Homo sapiens: one gene and its partner. The protein of the gene in region 1 interacts with the protein of each later gene in a biochemical or structural test. Each region holds a gene or a part of one and is shown on either strand. Other genes may lie near its edges. The genes, in order: HABP4 and SRSF9.

The links.
Region 2: the proteins of HABP4 (region 1) and SRSF9 form a complex in vitro, tested with the Homo sapiens proteins (one study listed by BioGRID).

The regions. Positions count from the first base shown.
Region 1 is NC_000009.12:96,479,378-96,488,939, forward strand, and holds part of HABP4 (intracellular hyaluronan-binding protein 4), read left to right. Parts: intron 1-5,084; coding exon 5,085-5,256; coding exon of another isoform or gene 5,257-5,280; exon of another isoform or gene 5,281-5,282; intron 5,283-8,711; coding exon 8,712-8,897; intron 8,898-9,562. UniProt on the Homo sapiens protein: Ribosome-binding protein that promotes ribosome hibernation, a process during which ribosomes are stabilized in an inactive state and preserved from proteasomal degradation.
Region 2 is NC_000012.12:120,465,516-120,475,055, reverse strand, and holds the start of SRSF9 (serine/arginine-rich splicing factor 9), read left to right. Parts: upstream 1-5,307; 5' UTR 5,308-5,446; coding exon 5,447-5,634; intron 5,635-9,268; coding exon 9,269-9,429; intron 9,430-9,540. UniProt on the Homo sapiens protein: Plays a role in constitutive splicing and can modulate the selection of alternative splice sites. Represses the splicing of MAPT/Tau exon 10.

The DNA of each region.
Region 1 (9,562 bases):
ACCAGTTTCATAAACATTTAGGTTACTTTGATTCATTTTACTTTCAAATTTTAGAGATTGAATTTTAATTTAAATCTGTTTTATAATTATGTAAAATATTTACATGTTTCCAAAGTTCAGTCTGAAAAACATGATTTTTTTTTTTTCTTTTTGAGATGGAGTTTCACTCTTGCCGAGCCTGGAGTGCAGTGATGCAATCTCAGTTCACTGCAACCTCCGCCTCCCGGGTTCAAAGCGATTCTCCTGCCTCAGCCTCCCGAGTAGCTGGGATTACAGGTGCCTGCCACCATGCCCAGCTAATTTTTGTATTTTTAGGAGAGACGGGATTTCACCATGTTGGCCAGGCCTGTGTCGATCTCCTGACCTCAGGTGATCAACTGGCCTTGGCCTCCCAAAGTGCTGGGTTTACAGACAGGAGCCACCGTGCCCAGCCAAAACATGGTATTTTCAAATAGCTTTTATCCCTATTGTTTTCCTGGCTTATATTCCAATTTAAAAAAAATGCTGGCCGGGTGCGGTGGCTCATGCCTGTAATCCCAGCACTGTGGGAGGCCAAAGTGGGTGGATTGCTTGAGCCTAGGAGTTTGAGACCAGCCTAGGCAACAAGTGAGACCCTCCCCCACCCAGTCTCTACAAAAAATACAAAAATTAGCTGGGTATGGTGGTGCATGCCTGTAGTCCCAGCTACTCTGGAGGCTGAAGTGAGAGGATCCCTTGAGCCCAGGAGGTGGAGGTTGCAGTGAGCAGAGATCATACCACCGCACTCCAGCCTGGGTGACAGAGTGAGACCCTGTCTCAAAACAAAACAAAACAAAAAAACTATCTATCTCTATCGGTGCTATGCATATATATTTGTGTGGCTCTCCAAGGTACTGTACACCCCTCCTTGCTTTTTTCTCATTCACTCTGGAAGGTGCTCCATAGCAGTATATACAGATAGTCCTCATTCCTTTTTTAGCTGCTATACTATAGTTTTTTCACCAAGTTCTTTTCTAGATAGGTTTGGGTTATTTCCATTAATTTGCTGTTCCAATGTCTTAGTATCTTTTAATATTTTTGCCAATATATATTTGAGATCTATATTTTGATATTGGTATTTTTCCAGCATTTTATTGTGAAAATTTCAAAACACAGCAAAGTTTAAAGAATTTTATAGCGAACATCTATACTTACCACTACCTAAATGCTACCATTTATATCTTATATATTCATTTTACATAAGTATTCATTAGTCCATGTTTTTTGACACATTTCATAATAAATTGTAGACATCTGTACACTTCCCCCTAAATAGTTCAACATGCATATCACTAAATAGAATTAATATTTGTTTACAATTTTTTCTTCTGATATAAAATGTATATACTATGAAATGTATAAATCTTAAGTGTACATTCACTGTTTTGACAAATGCATGTACTTGTGGAATCCAAACTCCTGTCGAATACAGAACATTACCAATCACGCCAGAAAGTTCTTTCATATTCCTTCATGTTATCTTTGCTTTGATGTTTTTTCTACCATCAGCTTGGTATTGTAGAGTCACTGCAAATTTGTCTATTTTGGATGCTCTGTGGTTAGGTTTCTCTACTGATTTTGCTTATATTTTTCATAACATTGATCTGTGTATTTCTATAATAGAACCTTAAATTACATCAGCTCTTCAGTGAAGATACAGATTTGATTCCCCACTCCCCACCTACTGTTTTGTTTTGTTTTGTTTTGGAGAAAGAGTCTTGTTCTGTCGCCCAGGCTGGAGTGCAGTGGTGCCATCTTGGCTCACTGCAACCTCCGCCTCCCGGGTTCAAGCAATTCTCCTGCTTCAGCCTCCCGAGTAGCTGGGATTACAGGGATTACAGGCGTGTGCCACCACACCCAGCTAATTTTTGTATTTTTAGTAGAGACGGGGTTTCACCATGTTGGTCAGGCTGGTCTTGAACACCTGACCTCATGATCCACCTGCCTCGGCCTCCCAAAGTGCTGGGATTATAGGTGTGAGCCACCGCGCCCGGCCTGTTTTTTCCCCTTAAACACTTTTGAGATATAATTCTCGTACTATAGCACTCAAATCTCTAAGTATATAGGCCAGGTGTGGTGGTTCAGATCTGTAATCCCAACACTTTGGGAGGCAGAGGCAGGAGGATAGCTTGAGGCCAGGAGTTCAAGACCAGCATGGGCTACATGGAGAGACCCCGTCTCTACAAAATGGTTGTAAAAATTAGCTGGGCCTGATGGCTCGTACCTGTAGTCCCAGCTACTCTCAGGAAGCTGAGGTGGGAGGATCCTTGGGCTCAGGAGGTTGAAGGTATGGTGAGCCATCATCATGCCACTGTACTCCAGCCTGGCCAACAGAGTGAAACCCAGCCTGTATCAAACAAATAAATGAGTAAACGACTGAATGCATGGATGGATGGTTTGGGGTATGTTACATTATTAATTTTTTAAAATTGCAGTAAAAATAACATAAAAATTGCCATTTTTACCATTTTAATATATATAATTTAATGGCATCAGTAACATTCATATTGTGTGTAACCATCACCACCATCCATCTCTAGAACTTTTTTTTTTTTTTTGAGATGGAATCTCACTCTGTTGTCCAGGCTGGAGTGCAGTGGTGCGATCTCGGCTCACTGCAACCTCCACCTCCCGGGTTCAAGCGATTCTCCTGCCTCAGCCTCCTGAGTAGCTGGGACTACAGGCACATTCCACTACACCCGGCTAATTTTTCTGGTATTTTTTAGTAGAGACGGGGTTTCACCGTATTGGCCAGGCTGGTCTCGAACTCCTGACCTCATGATCCGCCTGCCTCAGCCTCCCAAAGTGCTAGGATTACAGGCTTGAGCCACTGTGCCTGGCCTTGTAGAACTTTTTCATCACAAACAGAAACTCTATATCCATTTAACACTAACTCCCCATTTCTCCTCAGCATGTAGTAATCTCTATTTTACTCGTGTTTATGAATTTGCCTATTCTAGGTGCCTCATCTAAGTGGAATCGTTCAATGTTCCTTTTGCACCTGGCTTATTTTAACTATTAGCATCAAGTTTTCAGCTTCATTCATGTTGTAGCATGTGCCAGTCTTCATTTCTGTTTTTCTTTTTTTGTGTGTATTTTTGTGATGATTTTCAAATCTACGATTTTAATCCTTTTAAAGTGTACAATTCAGTGGCATTTAGTACATTCAGAGTGTTATGCAACCATCACCATGATCTGGCTCCAGAAGGTTGTTATCATCCCAAAAGGAAACCCCATGCCCATTCAGCAGTCACTCCCTATCCTCCCTCCCTGCAGCCCTGGCCACCACTGACCTGCCTCCTGTCTGTGTGAATCTGGCTCCTCTGAATATTTCATGTAAATGGAATCATACACAGAAGTCTTTTCTGCCTGGTTTATTTCACTTGCATCATTTTTTCAAGGTTTGTTCATGTCGTAATGTGTATTAATACTTTGTTTCTTTTTATTGCCAGATAATATTCCAAAAAATGTGCCATATTTGGTTTATCCACTCATTAGTTAATAGACATTTAGGTTGTGTCCACTTTTTGGCTATTATGAATAGCACTGCAGTGAACACTTGGGTTTAAGTTTTCATGTGGATGTGTGTTTTCATTTCTCTTGGGTATAAACCCAGGAGTGAAATTTCCGGGTCAGAGGCTAACTCAGCTTAGATTTTTGAGGAACCGCCAGACTGCTTTCCAAAGAGGCTACACCATTTCACATTCCCACTGGCAGTGTATGTGGGTTCCAGTTTCTCCACATCCTCCCCAACGCTTGTCAAATGTCGTTTTGGTTCTAACCATCCCACTGGGTGTGGACTGGTGCAGCTCTGTGGTTTTGACTTGTCTTTCTCTAATAGCTAATGATGTGCAACATCTTACTGCCTATTTGTATATCTTCTCTGGAAAAATGTTCACTCAGATCCTTGCCTTTTTTGGGGGGAGGGTGGTCATTTGTCTCAACTAAAGAGGACTTGTATCTAGAATTCATAAAGCATTCTTTTTTTTTTTTTTAAAGAGACAGTGTCTCATTCTGTTGCCCAAGGTGGAACACAGTGGCCATTCACACGTGTGATCATAGCTCACTGCAGCCTCAGATGCCTGGCCTCAAGCGATCCTCCCACCTCAGCCCCCTGAGTAGCTAGGACTATCGGCATGAGCCACCACGCTTGGCTGTTCATAAAGAATTCTTTATGTATTCTAGATACAAGTCCCTTGTGAGATATATTATTTGTAAATATTTTATCCCATTTTGTGGACTGTCTTTTTACTTTCTTGATGGTGTCCTTTGTAGTATAAAAGTATCTGATGATGTTCAATGTATGTACTTTTGTTGCTTGTTTTTTTGGTGTCATGTGGAAGAAACCATTGCCCAGTCCAGGGTTAAGAAAGTTTCTGCCTAGGTTTTCTGCTAAGAGTTTTATATTTTAGCTCTTGTATTTATGGTGTGAGGTAGGTCTAACTTCATTCTTTCTTTTGGTGTGTGTGGATATCCAGTTGCCCAAGCACCGTTTGTTGAAAATACTTTTCATTCTCCATTGAATTGTCTTTGGCACCACGGTTGGAAAAAAAAAATCAGTTGACCGTAAATGTGAGGGTTTATTTCTGGACTCTGAATTCTTTGCTCTCAATCTATATTTCTGTCTTTTGTTTTCTTTTTAAAACTCATTAAAGAGGATATTTGCAAAAGTATGCATTCATGAGCCACTGCTTTAAAACTTGTTTATGGTTTCCTGTATTTTATTTCAACCCATTGTCCATAATTACCTCATTTTGTCTGTCATGCTGTCTGGAAGGGAGTGCCAGTGGTGAAGTGTGATGTTAATGTCATCAGGATGGTGATGTTCCCATTTTTCAAAGATTGATTTGAACACAGATAGGAAGTATCTTCTGTTGGCAGTGATGACATAAAATGTTGAAAATGAAATATGGAAGCTTGTGAGTCAAAGATTTCCTTACCTTATTTGCATTTGAAATGCAGTACCACAAAAATATGTTGAATTAATGGTTATAACTTTTTCTTTATAAAGTAGACATTTTAGTACCATCAAAAAGTATTCTTTATGATTATATATCTCTTTATAGAGTTCCTGAGTTGGAGGTAGAAGAAGAAACCCAAGTTCAAGAGATGACTTTAGATGAGTGGAAAAATCTTCAAGAACAGACCAGACCAAAGCCTGAGTTTAACATCCGGAAACCAGAATCCACTGTTCCTTCCAAAGCCGTGGTGATTCACAAGTCAAAATACAGAGATGATGTAAGCATTGCATTTCGTATGTAGAGGTAATCTTTACTTTTACCTTACTGGAAGTGAAATGTACCTTTCCACTTCTGTCTTGAAAATGGAACATTAGTAGTTGGCAGTCTTTGTTTCTAATCAGAGATGATGCATGCCTAATTTTACTGTATTGTTCATTAAGAAAAGGAATTGAAACTTGAGGTATTGACAGATGCACAGAGCAGTTAGAGTGACAGTGCATCTTCTGCTCACCCTGGGACTATGCGGGTACTGTACACATACTGTGTATTAACTGTATTTCATTTTTCTCAAGGGAGAGTTACAGATTGTGTCTTGTACAATTCAGAGTTAATCAAAGGAGAACTACACTCTGTGTCCCCTGAGTAGGTTACTTTCAACTCTGTTTCTTGATAAGAGCATTTCACTGAGTAGTTGATGACTTTTTTTTTTTTTTGAGATGGAGTTTCGCTCTTGTTGCCCAGGCTGGAGTGCAGTGGCGCGATCTTGGCTCACCGCAACCTCCGCCTCCCGGGTTCAAGCGATTCTCGTGCCTCAGCCTCCCAAGTAGCTGGGATTACAGGCATGCGCCACCACCCCGGCTAATTTTGTATTTTTAGTAGAGACGGGGCTTTTCCATGTTGGTCAGGCTGGTCTTGAACTCCCGACCTCAGGTGATCCACCAGCCTCAGCCTTCTAAAGTGCTGGGATTACAGGCGTGAGCCACTGCACCTGGCCGAGTAGTTGATGACTTTTTAAACTGTGGTTGAGGTTCCATGCACTTCTGACGCCTTTCCCATGTTGGTTCAGCAGCTTTGCGCCCCCTGCCTAACTGCAGACGTGGCGGGAGATGAGTCCCCGAACGCTTGGCTGCTCGGTCAGGCACTGCCACAGCGGCCAGCGTGCTGCAGGGGTTGCTCAGGGAGCTCCTCCGTGTTGTGAGGCCTTATTGCTCACGGCTTACGTCCAGCTCTTCTCAGAAGCTTCAGTTTTGCAGGGAGAGGTTTCGGGGAAACATCTAGCAGCATATGTTGATAGGGATGCCATGGGGTCATCAAGTCCCCGACTTGTTACTGAACTTAAGGCTAGGTCCACTGAAGCATTCCCATTATGGGATTTAGAATCTGTATCATTCCATCTACAGCTTGATACCAGTCACTATTTCGAGGTGGGAGTGAGCAGGTAGCAGGTTCTTCCTCTCTGTGGGGTATTAGTTATTGATTTTCATGTGGAATCTCAGGAATGTTATGCTATTGTAGAGTTGTCATTTACACTTTGGTTAGTTTCATTTTCTGAGTGAGTACTTTGATTAGGTGTCATTTAAGATACAGGGTTCTTGGGAGGCCAAGGCAGGTGGATCACCTGAGGTCAGGAGTTCGAGACCAGCCTAGCCAACATAGTGAAACCCTGTCTCTACTAAAAATACAAAAACTAGCCGGGCGGTTGGCGGGTGCCTGTAGTCCCAGCTACTCGGGAGGCTGAGGCAGGAGAATCGCTTGAACCCGGGAAGCAGAGGTTGCAGCAAGCCGAGATCACGCCATTGCACTCCAGCCTGGGCAACAAAGTGAGACTTCGTCTCCAAACAAAACAAAAAAAAAGATACAGGATTCTCTCCCATCCTCTTGTTTTGGTCAGTCCAAGCTGTAGGAGGCCTTACTGAGTTTTGAGCTGTTCCACAAGAAATGGCTTTTTGTAGACATAGGCGGCCGGAGCTTTATTTCCCTGGCAATCTCTGGGAGGTGTTTTCTAACTCCATTAGCAAGCTGGGTTGGTTCTTAACCTGTCCACTTCCTTTGTTCTTTTTTGTTCTAGGCATTGTAAATAAAAATTTCTCTAAAACAAATGTGCTGTCAGGATTGAAATATGCAGCTGACATGTTAGGTAAAAATAGAAGCTGCTCTTTCTTAATCCACACCAGATTTGTCCTCCCGGGCTCCAGAGGTCTCCCAGAATATTTGAAGCAAGTGGGTTAGCTGAGTCATCAAGCCTGGTCTCAGTGAAGCACACATCTTGGTCCTTGTTAATCTTGGAGGATTGAAGATTTTAGCTAGGAATTGTTCTTAAAGCAACACAAGCCAGATCTTGGGTTCATCAGTTTACTTTGTTCTGGACACCTGAAGAGGCAGAAGCACTAGAATACCTAGCAAAGTTCAGACCTAGTAACAACCTCGCGTAAGGCACTGGGCGGTGAAAGCACTTGGGCCAGGGCCAGCTGGAGCTGCAAGTGGAGCCCAAGCCTTAGACTGTGTCCACTCCCTGCTCCACTGCCCCGAGGCCCTTCCTGCCCCTTCCTGCAGTGGGAGGCGACTCAGAGCAGGGACCCCAGGGAGACCTTACCAGCGCTTCCCTGCTGAGTGCCAAACAAGGCAAGGGTTGAGTATTTTGCCTGTTACTATTTTTTGTGTGTATCTTTTTACAGAATGCCAGTGCTCCTGGACTGTTTTTCTTCACCTTTTTAGCATTAAGCATCCAACTACCTAAAGCCTCTGCTTTATTTTAACCTGAGACCTCAAAGGGGACACAAATGTTAAACATGAAGGCTGTCATGAGCATATGGCCTAAAGGTGTTGATATGCTCGTGGAAACTTTGCTCCATTTCCTGGTTGTAGGAATGTTTAATGTTGTAGCACTTTGGAGATTCTCATCTGAAATCACTGACATATCTTCCTTTCTGTAGGTTTTTACTTTACTTAAAGTGGGGTTTTTGTGTGTGTGTGTGTGTGATACCCATTATTATGAGTTGAAGCCAAATCAAATTTGGATCAGATTTAATTAATTTATTTAATATAGCTGTCACAAGAGATAGAATTTTAATGAAAGCAGTTCTTAAAAAGCAGCTTGACTTCTTTGTGCAGTGTTGGTAGAACACTCAGGTAACCATACTCTTGTTTTTATAAAGTTTCTCTATATTTTGAGTCAGAATTGTTTATTATAAATCATGTGATTTTTAGCACATGGTATTATAATCAGCACCCATGCTGAAAGGAATTTCTCTGTTAAGTTCTGTTCTGGGAAGGGGATATTTCCTTATTTATCAAAGCATTTGTGAACAGATAAGACAGAAAATAAGCAGAAATGAAAACTTTTTTATCTCAGCAAAATACACTTAGATATAAAACATGTATATTGTTTGCTATTATTAGTCATGCCAAATCTTATATCTTAACCTGCTCAGCTGATAGAAATTTGGTCCCACTTGAAATCATAATAAGTTCAAAGATGTTTGGATTAAGATTGTAATTGCAAGAATGTGGGACTCTAGAACATACAGAACTCACTGTCTTAGAATCAGAACAGCAGTGCTGTCTTCCTTTGTCCAGCTCTGCAGCCCAGGGCCAGAGACAAATCCAGAGAATGGCTCTGACTAGCCCCTGATGGTGTTTTAGCTCCTGTGTAGCACACTGCAGCCACTAAGCCAGATGAGTGTGGGGATGGCTGTGGACTTGTGCGTGTTTGATGCTGTAATTGTGTTTCAGATGGTAAAAGATGACTATGAGGACGATTCCCATGTTTTCCGGAAACCCGCCAATGACATCACATCCCAGCTGGAGATTAATTTTGGTAACCTCCCTCGTCCTGGGCGTGGAGCCAGAGGAGGCACCCGGGGAGGCCGGGGAAGGATCAGGAGGGCAGAGAACTATGGACCCAGAGCAGAAGTGGTGGTAGGTGTCTGTATTGACGGTTTGGCGAAAGAAGTTAATAAGGACAGTGCCCTGGGCCCAGGATGGTCTAATTTCAGAGGGTCATGAGTTTCTGCAGTCACTTCTTTCTGTAGCTAGTGTGGGACTGATGTTGGGGCATTTGGACGGTGTTGTAGCATCATGGACATCTTGCCTAGAGACCGTTCTGTAGCCCTGGCTTCCAGGGTCTGCTGTGAAGGCACTCCCGGGATCAGAGAGAAACTCACTGTCACCCGCATTAGACAAGATCCCCAGGCTTGGGATTGAACTGGAGCACCTGACGTTTTGCTTACTGTGGCCTGATTGTGTGCCTTGGGCTCAGGTGATGCTGTCAGAGTGGACAGAATCCTCCCTAAGATCTCAAGCCCTTTGTGAGGGGACCTTCCTCAACCCCTCCCCGGCTCACCTGCCTCACACCGTCCTCAGCCAAGGCTGCCTGATTCTAGCTCTCAACACAGCACGCTCCTTACCCCTGGCCTCTGCCTGCTGGCCTCCATTCATCCTTCCAGCCTCACTTCCTCACAGGTTTCTTTGATCACATCTCCTAGACCGATCAAGGTCTCGGAGCAAAGGAGTTTCTTTTCATTGAAGCCTGATCTCCGTGTGCGGCTGTATTCTCACTGGTGTGGCTATCGGTCAGCGGCTGC
Region 2 (9,540 bases), on another chromosome or scaffold:
ACTTGCTTTCCTAAAGCTCACCCCCAATTCCAAACTCTCTTCCAAACCTCCTAGTTCTGCTGCTGTTTCTCTTCTTCCTCCCCTGCATGGCTCAGTTCTTTATTATGTAGCTTTCCAGAATATGTTTTATTTTACTCCATCACACAAGTACAGTGGTAGAGAATGACAGAGAAAGCTCCCAGGGTGCTGTGACCAGGAACACGTTTCCCAGTGACTCATTCCATAGCTCTCCTGCCAGGCGGGACCAGTTCCTCATCTTCTCAGATGGTCTACTCCCCCATCACTTCCTCTCTGCCCACTGATACCTAGGGCCAAGGTCTGGGAGGAGCTCATGACTGAGCCTGACAGAGAGGAAAATATTTTGCTGGGATGCCAGAGGGGACTGATGTCACAGAGAAAAGGAGAAAACCAGATGGGCAGGTTTGCAGCATGTTTTATGCCTGGCGTTGTTGGTTTTTTGTTTGTTTTAAATTTTTATTTCAATAGGTTTTTGGGGAACAGGTGGTGTTTGGTTATATGGATAAGTTCTTTAAGTTATTTAGTGGTGATTTCTGAGATTTTCATGCACTCATCACCCGAGCTGTTGTTGGTTTTGGGATTTTTTTTTTTTTTTATGTTGTTTTTTTCAGTTGGGCACTGCCCTACACTCTGGTGGAGAATAAATGGCTTGCTGTGGGAACTGCATTAATTCTTAATAGTCTGCCAACATCAAAGGCTTCTTTTCAGTTTGGTGAAAAGAAGGACAAGCCCATTTCTGTAACAGGATCTCACTCTGTCGCCCAGGCTGGAGTGCAGCGGTGCAATATTGGCTCACTGCAACCTCTGCCTCCTGGGCTTAAGTGATTCTCCCCCCTCAGCCTCCCAAGTAGCTGGGACTATGGGTGTGTGCCACCATGCCCAGCTAATTTTTGTATTTTTTGTAGAGACGGGGTTTTAACATGTTGCCCAGGCTGGTGGTGCCTCAGCTCCTTCTCTCTTCTTCCCTGCTTGAACTCCTTGCCCCAGTCACACCAGTAGGGATTTTCCCTGGTCTGCTACTCTCTCTCCTATTTGGGTGATTTCTCATGGTGTCCTTTTTTATGTTTTGAGACAGAGTCTCACTCTGTTGCCCAGGCTGGAGTGCAGTGGTGCAATCATGGCTAACTACAGCTTCAACCTCCCAGGCTCAAGCAGTCCTCCCACCTCAGCCTCTTAAGTAGCTGGGACTGTCAGGTGCCGTGGCTAATGCCTGTAATCCCAGCACTTTGGGAGGCCGAGATGGGCGGATCACTTGAGCTCAAGAGTTCGAGATCAAGTAGCTGAGACCACAGGTGCACGTTACCATGCCTAGATAATTTTTTAATTTTTTTTTTTTTTTTTTTTTGAGACAGAGTCTCGGTGTTGACCAGGCTGGAGTTCAGTGGCGCAATCTCGGCTCACTGCAACCTCTGCCTCCCGGGTTCAAGCAATTCTCCTGCCTCAGCCTCCAAAGTAGCTGGGATTACAGGTGTGCGCCACCACCTCCGACTAATTTTTGTGTTTTTAGTAAAGATGAGGTTTTGCCATGTTGACCAGGCTGGTCTCGAACTCCTGACTTCAAGTGATCCACCCACCTTGACCTCCCCAAAGTGCTGGGATTACAGGCATGAGCCACTGGGCCTGGCAATTTTTAAGTTTTTTGTAGAGATAGGGGTCTCACTACATTGCCTAGCCTGGTCTCAAACTCCTGGACTCAAGCCATCCTCCTGCCTCAGCCTCCCAAAGTGCTGGGATTACTGCCACTGCACTCAGCAGTCATGCCCTCATTTTTGTCTGAAATGCCCTTCCCTCTTCCCCCTGGTTAACTCCTACTGGTTCTTCAAGACTCTAAACATCTCCTCCCAGAAGCCTTCCTTAGAATCTCTAAGACTGTGGTAGGTGACCCTCCGATGTAGTCTCAAGCAGCTTATCCTTATCACAACTGTACTCTACATGACCGAATAGCAACCTATATACACAACTCAAGGACAGAGCTGTATTATTGCATGCCCTGGGCCTCATACAGGACCTAAATCATAAATAATGTTGAATATCTAGATGAACAAAAAGTTTAAAAGGTGTCCCTGCCTAGAGTCTCTGGCCTTAGCAGAGAATGGAACCTATGAACCCTTTGAACATGAAGTCATAATTGTGGTCTCATTTGTGTTCTAACTGCAAAGGTCAGTACAGGAATAAAGGGGGTTTCATGGATGATCATAAATGCCTCCTAAGGATTTAGCTGTGCTCTATCTAATCCAAGAAGCCTGTACTAACCACATCCCTACATTTTCTGCTGGGTAACTGAACTCCTTTGGAGATTGTATGCTGCAGGACATTGCACAATTAAAGCTGAATTATTATTATTTGCAAGCAGTTTTCCACCTACAGTCCTATTGAGTCACTTAGCTGACTCTATTTCTCTCTCCCTAGGAGACTGCCCAATTGTCTCCAACAGCACTTTTTTTTCCTTTTTTGTCTTTCCAGGCAACAATCACATAGGAGTGGTAGGACTCAGAGAATGGTATTAATACACCTAAGCACACCACCCAAAATGAGAAGGCATCTGGACTTTCGGATGCCTATAGGATATGTAAGCTCCTATAAGGCTGCACACTTAGACTCGAGATCATATTTGGCCAGGGCTCTTTCCTGCTTGTCTAGAGAACAGCTAGATGCTTTACATAATCCAGAATACAACAGATAGTTATAATGGTTTTATTTTAGGAATCATTTATTATGTTTTATTCCAATTATAAAAGTAGTGCATGCTAATTACAATTTGAGAAATACAGAAAAGCATAAATAAAAACATAGAAATCACTGCCATCAAGAGATATCTCCACAACCACAACATTTGGAAAGCTTTTTCTATTTTTTTTTTGTTACAAGCAGCAAATACACTATATATGTGTATACATTAAACACCACTTTCAATTCACTTTAACTGTAAATTACTGTGACTTTAATATCTCTGTCATATTAAAAACATGACTTAATAATTGTGTAACATTCAAAGTTAATGTGTTGAGCCACTCCCTTATTATCAAGTTTAATTTTTTTAATTGCACAGAATGCAATGATAAATATACACATGTAATTTATTATGAGAATCTCTTGCTTATTTCCGTCTGATAAAAATCCTACAAGCAGCTGGGCGCGGTGGCTCACGCCTGTATTCCCAGCACTTTGGGAGGCTGAGGCAGGCGGATCACGAGGTCAGGAGATTGAGATCATCCTGGCTAACACGGTGAAACCCTGTCTCTACTAAAAATATAAAAAAATCAGCCGGGCGTGGTGGCAGGCACCTGTAGTCCCAGCTACTCAGGAGGCTGAGGCGGGAGAATGGCATGAACCTGGGAGGCGGAGCTTGCAGTGAGCCGAGATCACGCCACTGCACTGCAGCCTGGGTGACAGTGTAAGACTCCGTCTCAAAACAAACAAACAAAAAATCCTACAAGCAGAATTACAAGATCGAAGGGTATATGTATATTATGAAAGCCTGATGTATACTATCAACTTGTATTCCAAAAAAGATATACACTCAGTAGTATATGTGGGTGTCTAGTCTTTGGTTTGTTTTGATTTTAAAATGCTCAGATGGTATAATGAGAAATCAACTACCTTCTGATTAAATGTGTGGTTTTAGTCCCTTTTTTTGTTTGTTTTTGTTTTGTCTTGTTTTTGAGACAGAGTCTCCCTCTGTCACCCAGGCTGGAGGAGTGCAGTGGCACAATCTCGGCTCACTGCAACCTCTGCCTCCCAGATTCAAGCGATTCTCGTGCCTCATCCTCCCAAGCAGCTGGGACTACAGGCGTGCCACCAAGCTTGGCTAATTTTTTTTTTTTTTTGTATTTTTAGTAGGGGGGCGGGTCTTGCCATGTTGGCCAGGCTGGTCTTGAACTCCTGGCCTCAAGTGATCCACCCACCTCAGCCTCCTAAAGTGCTGGGATTACAGGCATGAGCCACCACGCCCAGCCAGGTTTCATTTTTAATATGAAAAATCTTTATTTATTTTTGAGACAGTCTCACTCTGTCACCCAGGCTGAAGTGCAGTGGCATGATCTCGGCTCACTGCAACCTTCGCCTCCCGGGCTCAAGCAATTCTCCTGCCTCAGCCTCCCGCGTAACTGGGATTATAGGAACACGCCACCACGCCCAGCTAATTTTTGTATTTTTAGTAGAAACGGGGTTTCCCCATGTTGCCCAGGCTAGTCTCGAACTACTGACCTCAAGTGATCCTCCCGCCTTGGCCTCTCAAAGTGTTGGGATTACAGGCGTGAGCCACCGCACCCAGCCTGAACAATCTTTAGGTTAGGAGTATTCCAGCCGGGCGCCGGGCTCAAGCCGGTAATCCAACACTTTGGGAGGCCAAGGCTGGAGGATCGGTTGAGCCCAGGAGTTCGAGACCAGCCTCTCTACAAAAAAAATAGAAAATAAACTAGCTGGACGCAGCGCAGACCCCTCACGGCGCCCCGAGGTGGGAGGATCACCTGAGTCCAGCGAGATCGAGACTGCAGTGAGCCGTGTTCGCGCCATTGCACTCCAGCCTGAGCAACAGAATAAGACCCTGTATCAAAAACAAACAAAAAGTCTTCTGGTGCAAGGCCTCACTGTAAGGTCCCTGGGTTCAATGCTCCGCGTTCTGGGATGTGAATGTGGAAAAGTAAGTGCCAAGGTGGGTGTCTACCTGAGCTCCATAAGGACTCAGTACTTAGGATGGGAGCATGGCTCTGGGTTCCATTCCTGACCCCTCTGTGGCCTCAGACTCTGCCCGGGAGAGGATGAAAAGCACAAGTCGGATGCACTCTATAGTGATCGCTGTGATACTCATTAAGAGTCTTACTCCCTCGACTCCGACAAACTCAAGGCCAAGCTATGGAGTCCATCTCATGCTGACACCGTCAGTTCTGAGCAACTGTAAAATGGGGACAGGGTGGCCCGGGGGCCTACTGACCTGAGGTGGGGGCCGCGACAGCCCGGCCGCTGCGGGGTCAGCCTGCGGTCTCCGCCTGACTCCAGCTCTCCTGCGCCCCGCAGGCCCTGGGCGCTACCCACGTCAGTGAGTGCTCACAAGTCTGTGAGGTAGGCGGCGCCACAGAGAGAAACTGAGGCGCGGGAGCCCAAGCCACTTGTCCAGCGCCTCAGCCGAGCGCGAACCGCGCTCGGGGATGGCATCCACACGGCCCGGCCCCAGGCTCTCCCTGTCAGCGCCCGAAGGCCCTTCGCACCTCCAGGGGGCGCCGGCCTGCGCGCACGCGCAATGGTCGCAGCCGCGTTCTCTTTAAGAGGACTCCTTTTGCCTCCGCCGACCCCTTCGCTTCCGCTCCGCGTTCCCACAATGCAGTGCGGCTGAGCGCCTCGGAGCCCGCGGGGACGCTGCGGGGGGACCCGTGCTGAGGCGGCGGCGGCGACGTGGGCTGCGGCGGGCCCGCGGCGTCGGGCGGTGCGGATGTCGGGCTGGGCGGACGAGCGCGGCGGCGAGGGCGACGGGCGCATCTACGTGGGGAACCTTCCGACCGACGTGCGCGAGAAGGACTTGGAGGACCTGTTCTACAAGTACGGCCGCATCCGCGAGATCGAGCTCAAGAACCGGCACGGCCTCGTGCCCTTCGCCTTCGTGCGCTTCGAGGACCCCCGGTGAGGCCCCCGCGCCCCTGCCCTCTCCTCCTCGGTGCCTGAGGCCCCCGCCTTCCCTGCTGTCCCCTCCCCCAGGGCTCCCCTCCCCCCGGCCTCCCCTCCCCCCGCCTCCGCGCAGACCCCTCACGGCGCCCCCTCACGGGTGGAGGATGAGGCAGCCTCTCCTCGCAGGCCCGGGCCGTCCTTCGCGCCGTCGTCACTTCCTTTATTTTTATTATTCCAATATTTTACTTAGAAACCCAAAAGCTGAGCCTTTGGAGGGCCCAAGCCCGCCTGCACCGGCCTCGGGGGGTCCAAATGAGCCTTGTCCGCCTCCTGCCTGGGGCAGCACCGTAGGGGGAAGCGGCCGCGGGGCAGCGCGGGGGTCGCCGTTCGCCCTTCCCGCTCGCCTCTCCCCCGGCCCGTGCTCGCCGTGGCTGGAGAGCAAGCTGCAGGGTCGCGGATGCCGCTGGAGGTCGTGGAGGGATCTCTGGTGGAATAGCTCGCCGTTCGCGCGCCCCGCCCCGCAGGCCAGGGCCCGGGCTTTGTAAAGGGATCACGGATTCGGGAAAACTTCTAAAACAGCCGGAGTGGGGCTCTGATTTCACTTCCCTCCTTTGATGAGGGAGGCTTGGCGAGATGCTAAAGGTTCCAGGGATTTGGAAACTCTAGATTCCTAACCCCGCTCTAAGGAGTGCTTGTGATTTTGCAAACAGCGTCGGCCCTCAGGCCGGAAAAAGCCCAGGAACTTTCAAAACTGTGGTTGGTGGTGGTTAGCAGCTGCGGCGCTGACCTGGTCACTCCACTCCGGCCAAATAAGAGCCCGCACCCTGTTTTCCTAGCATCATTTGCTCCCGGGGAACGCGGAATGTTCGTAGGGTGTCCGACCTACCTGGGGTGGACGTATTGATAGGGCAAGGGGAGCATCTGAGGAAGGGCAGGCAGGAAGCACCGCGAGGCGTTGATGGCTGAAGAGTCGACTCTGACAGCTCATCCCTAGTATCTCCTCATTTGCCTCAAAACCGGAACTGGGCATTTTTACCCCTAAGCCGGAGAAGGCTATGCCTCGCTTATTTAGTAACCGTGCCATTGTGGTTTTTCAACAGTTGCTATGGGTCAAGTGCCATGGTGTGTATTTAGCTTTTTTTCTTTCCTTCTTATTTTTTTAGATTGATAAATTAGGGGTTTCACCATGTTGCTCAGGCTGGTCTGGAACTCCTGAGCTCAGGTGATTCTCCCGTCTCAGCGGATCAAATTGTTAGGATTACAGGCGTGAGCAACCCGCCCAGCCTGTATTTAGTATTTTTAACAATTTATGAGGTGTAGGTACTATTTTTTTTTTTTTTTTGAGACAGGTCTTCACTCTTGTTGCCCAGGCTGGAGTGCTGTGGTGCGATCCCGGCCCACCGCAACCTCCGCCACCTGAGTTCAAGCGATTCTCCCGCTTCAGCTTCCCAGTAGCTGGGATTACAGGCGCCCGCCATCATGCCTGGCTGATTTTTCTATGTTCAGCAGATACGGGGTTTCTCCATGTTGGCCAGGTTTGTCTTGAACTCCTAACCTCAAGTGATCCACCCACCTCAGCCTCCCAAAATGCTGAGGTTACAGGCCTGAGCCACCACGCCAGGCCGGGATCAATGGATTTGAACTCCCTCTTCTGTTTTTCGAATGCAAACTTACTATATGATACGCTACATTGTCATCTTCCCTCATTCCTTTCATAATAGAAAAACTATCTTTTGGTGTCACTAGATGTGAAGATTCAAGCAAAGCATTTCATGTAGTATCTTATTTAACCATTACAATAACCCTGTGAGATAGGCATACTGTTCACATTAGAGATGTAAAAACTTGATTAAACACTTACCCAGAGATGACTACTAGTAATTTGCAGAATAGTGATTTGAATGCAGGCTAATTTTATTTATTTATTGTATTTATTGAGATGGAGTCTGGCTCTGTCGTGCAGGCTGGAGTGTAGCGGCACAGTCTCAGCTCACTGCAACCTTCGCCTCCTGGGTTCAAGAGATTCTCGTGCCTCAGCCTCCTGAGTAGCTGGGATTACAGCTGCGCGATGCCATGCCCAGCTAATTTTTATCTTTTTAGTAGAGACGAGGGGTTTCACCAGGTTGCCCAGACTGGTCTCAAGCTGCTAACCTCAAGTGATCCACCTCCCAAAGTGCTGGGATTACAGGCATGTGCCACAGCGCCTGGCCTGAATGCTGGCCAGTTTTTATTCAGAGTTGTTCTGACCTCCTAGCAGTTCTGCCTCTCCCAGTCTGCATTTTACGTAGTCAAGGTTGCACTGGATATGGTCATTGTTGCTTTTAGTTCTAAAATCTTACAAGTGATTATGTGCCTGTGACACTGAACAATGCCTTCATTAGCACATTCAGCTCCTCTTGTCCACCCAAGCTCCAAGGTCACACTTTCTACCATCCAATACTGGAGAATCAACGTGGCATTCCTGACTCTCCTAGAGTCCTAGGAAAGACTTAAAGTAATTTTATTGAATATTTATCTCTTTTGGCAAAATTGTATCCAAAGAATGTTTTTTGACAAAAATAGTTCTCCAAACCATGCTGAAAAGGTACACTTAGAGTTCCAAGGCCAGGCGCAGTGGCTTATGCCTGTAATCCTAGCACTTTGGGAGACTGAGGGGAAGGATCGCCTGAGCCCAGGAGTTCAAGACCAGGCTGGCCAGCAGAGGGAGACCTGTCTCTACAAAAAATCCAAAAATTAGCTGGGTGCAGTGGTACACGCCTGTGGCCCTAGCTATTCAGGAGGCTGAGGTGGGAGGATTGCTTGCGCCCAAGAGTTAGAAGCTGCTGTGAGTTATGCTCCAGCCACTGCACTCAGCCTTGGTGACAGAGCAAGACCCCGTTTCAAAAAAAAAAAAAGTTCCACATTCATCACAAAACACTCATTTGCATTTTTCTTTTGTCCTTTGAGCCTTATTTATTTATTTTTTTAAAAGACCGGGTCTCACTATATTACCCAGGCTGGCCTGACCTGGGCTCAAACATCATGCCCAGCTACTTTATTTACCCTCAAATACTCTCCTATCTAACTGGCTACTTTTTTTTTCCTGTTTTTTGGGACAGGGTCTCTGTCACCCAGGCTGGAGTACAGTAGTGTGATCTTGGCTCTGCACTCCCATCTCAGCCTCTCAAGTAGCTGGGACTACAGGCGTGCAACACCATGCCTGGCTAACCGCCTACTTTTTATTTCCATAGACTTTATGGCACTAGGCTTTGTAGAAAAATATTAAGGGGTTAGTGTGTGGTGTGCTTTTCGAGAAAATGCTCACGAAGATTAGAAAAACACTGATGGTTTATTGGCAAAATCAATAATCTGTCAGCAGTTGATTCTTTTTTTTCTCTGAATTAGCCCTCTTATGAGTAATCTGTTTGCTCATTCATTATAATTTCATACCTCTAAAACTGCGTGTGACAGCTGTAAAGGTTAATTCCAGTATCATGAAACGTCTCCAAACCAAAGCAGAAGTGCTTCAGGATCCTGATTTGTGTGTTTTTTTCTTCACTCTAGGTTTCCCTTTTATGCTTACTACTCATGCCCCTCACTTGGAAAGTCACTTGGCCTCCTGAACAGCACTAACTCCAAACGTTTTTTTTGTTGTTGTTGTTTTTTTTAGAGATGCAGAGGATGCTATTTATGGAAGAAATGGTTATGATTATGGCCAGTGTCGGCTTCGTGTGGAGTTCCCCAGGACTTATGGAGGTCGGGGTGGGTGGCCCCGTGGTGGGAGGAATGGGCCTCCTACAAGAAGATCTGATTTCCGAGTTCTTGTTTCAGGTATGTTCCTTTCAAACAGAATGAGATGATACATGTAAAATACTTAACACAGAGTCTGTCTTCCAAGAAATGATAGCTGTTATTCTTCAGTGCATGGGACACGGGGGCTTT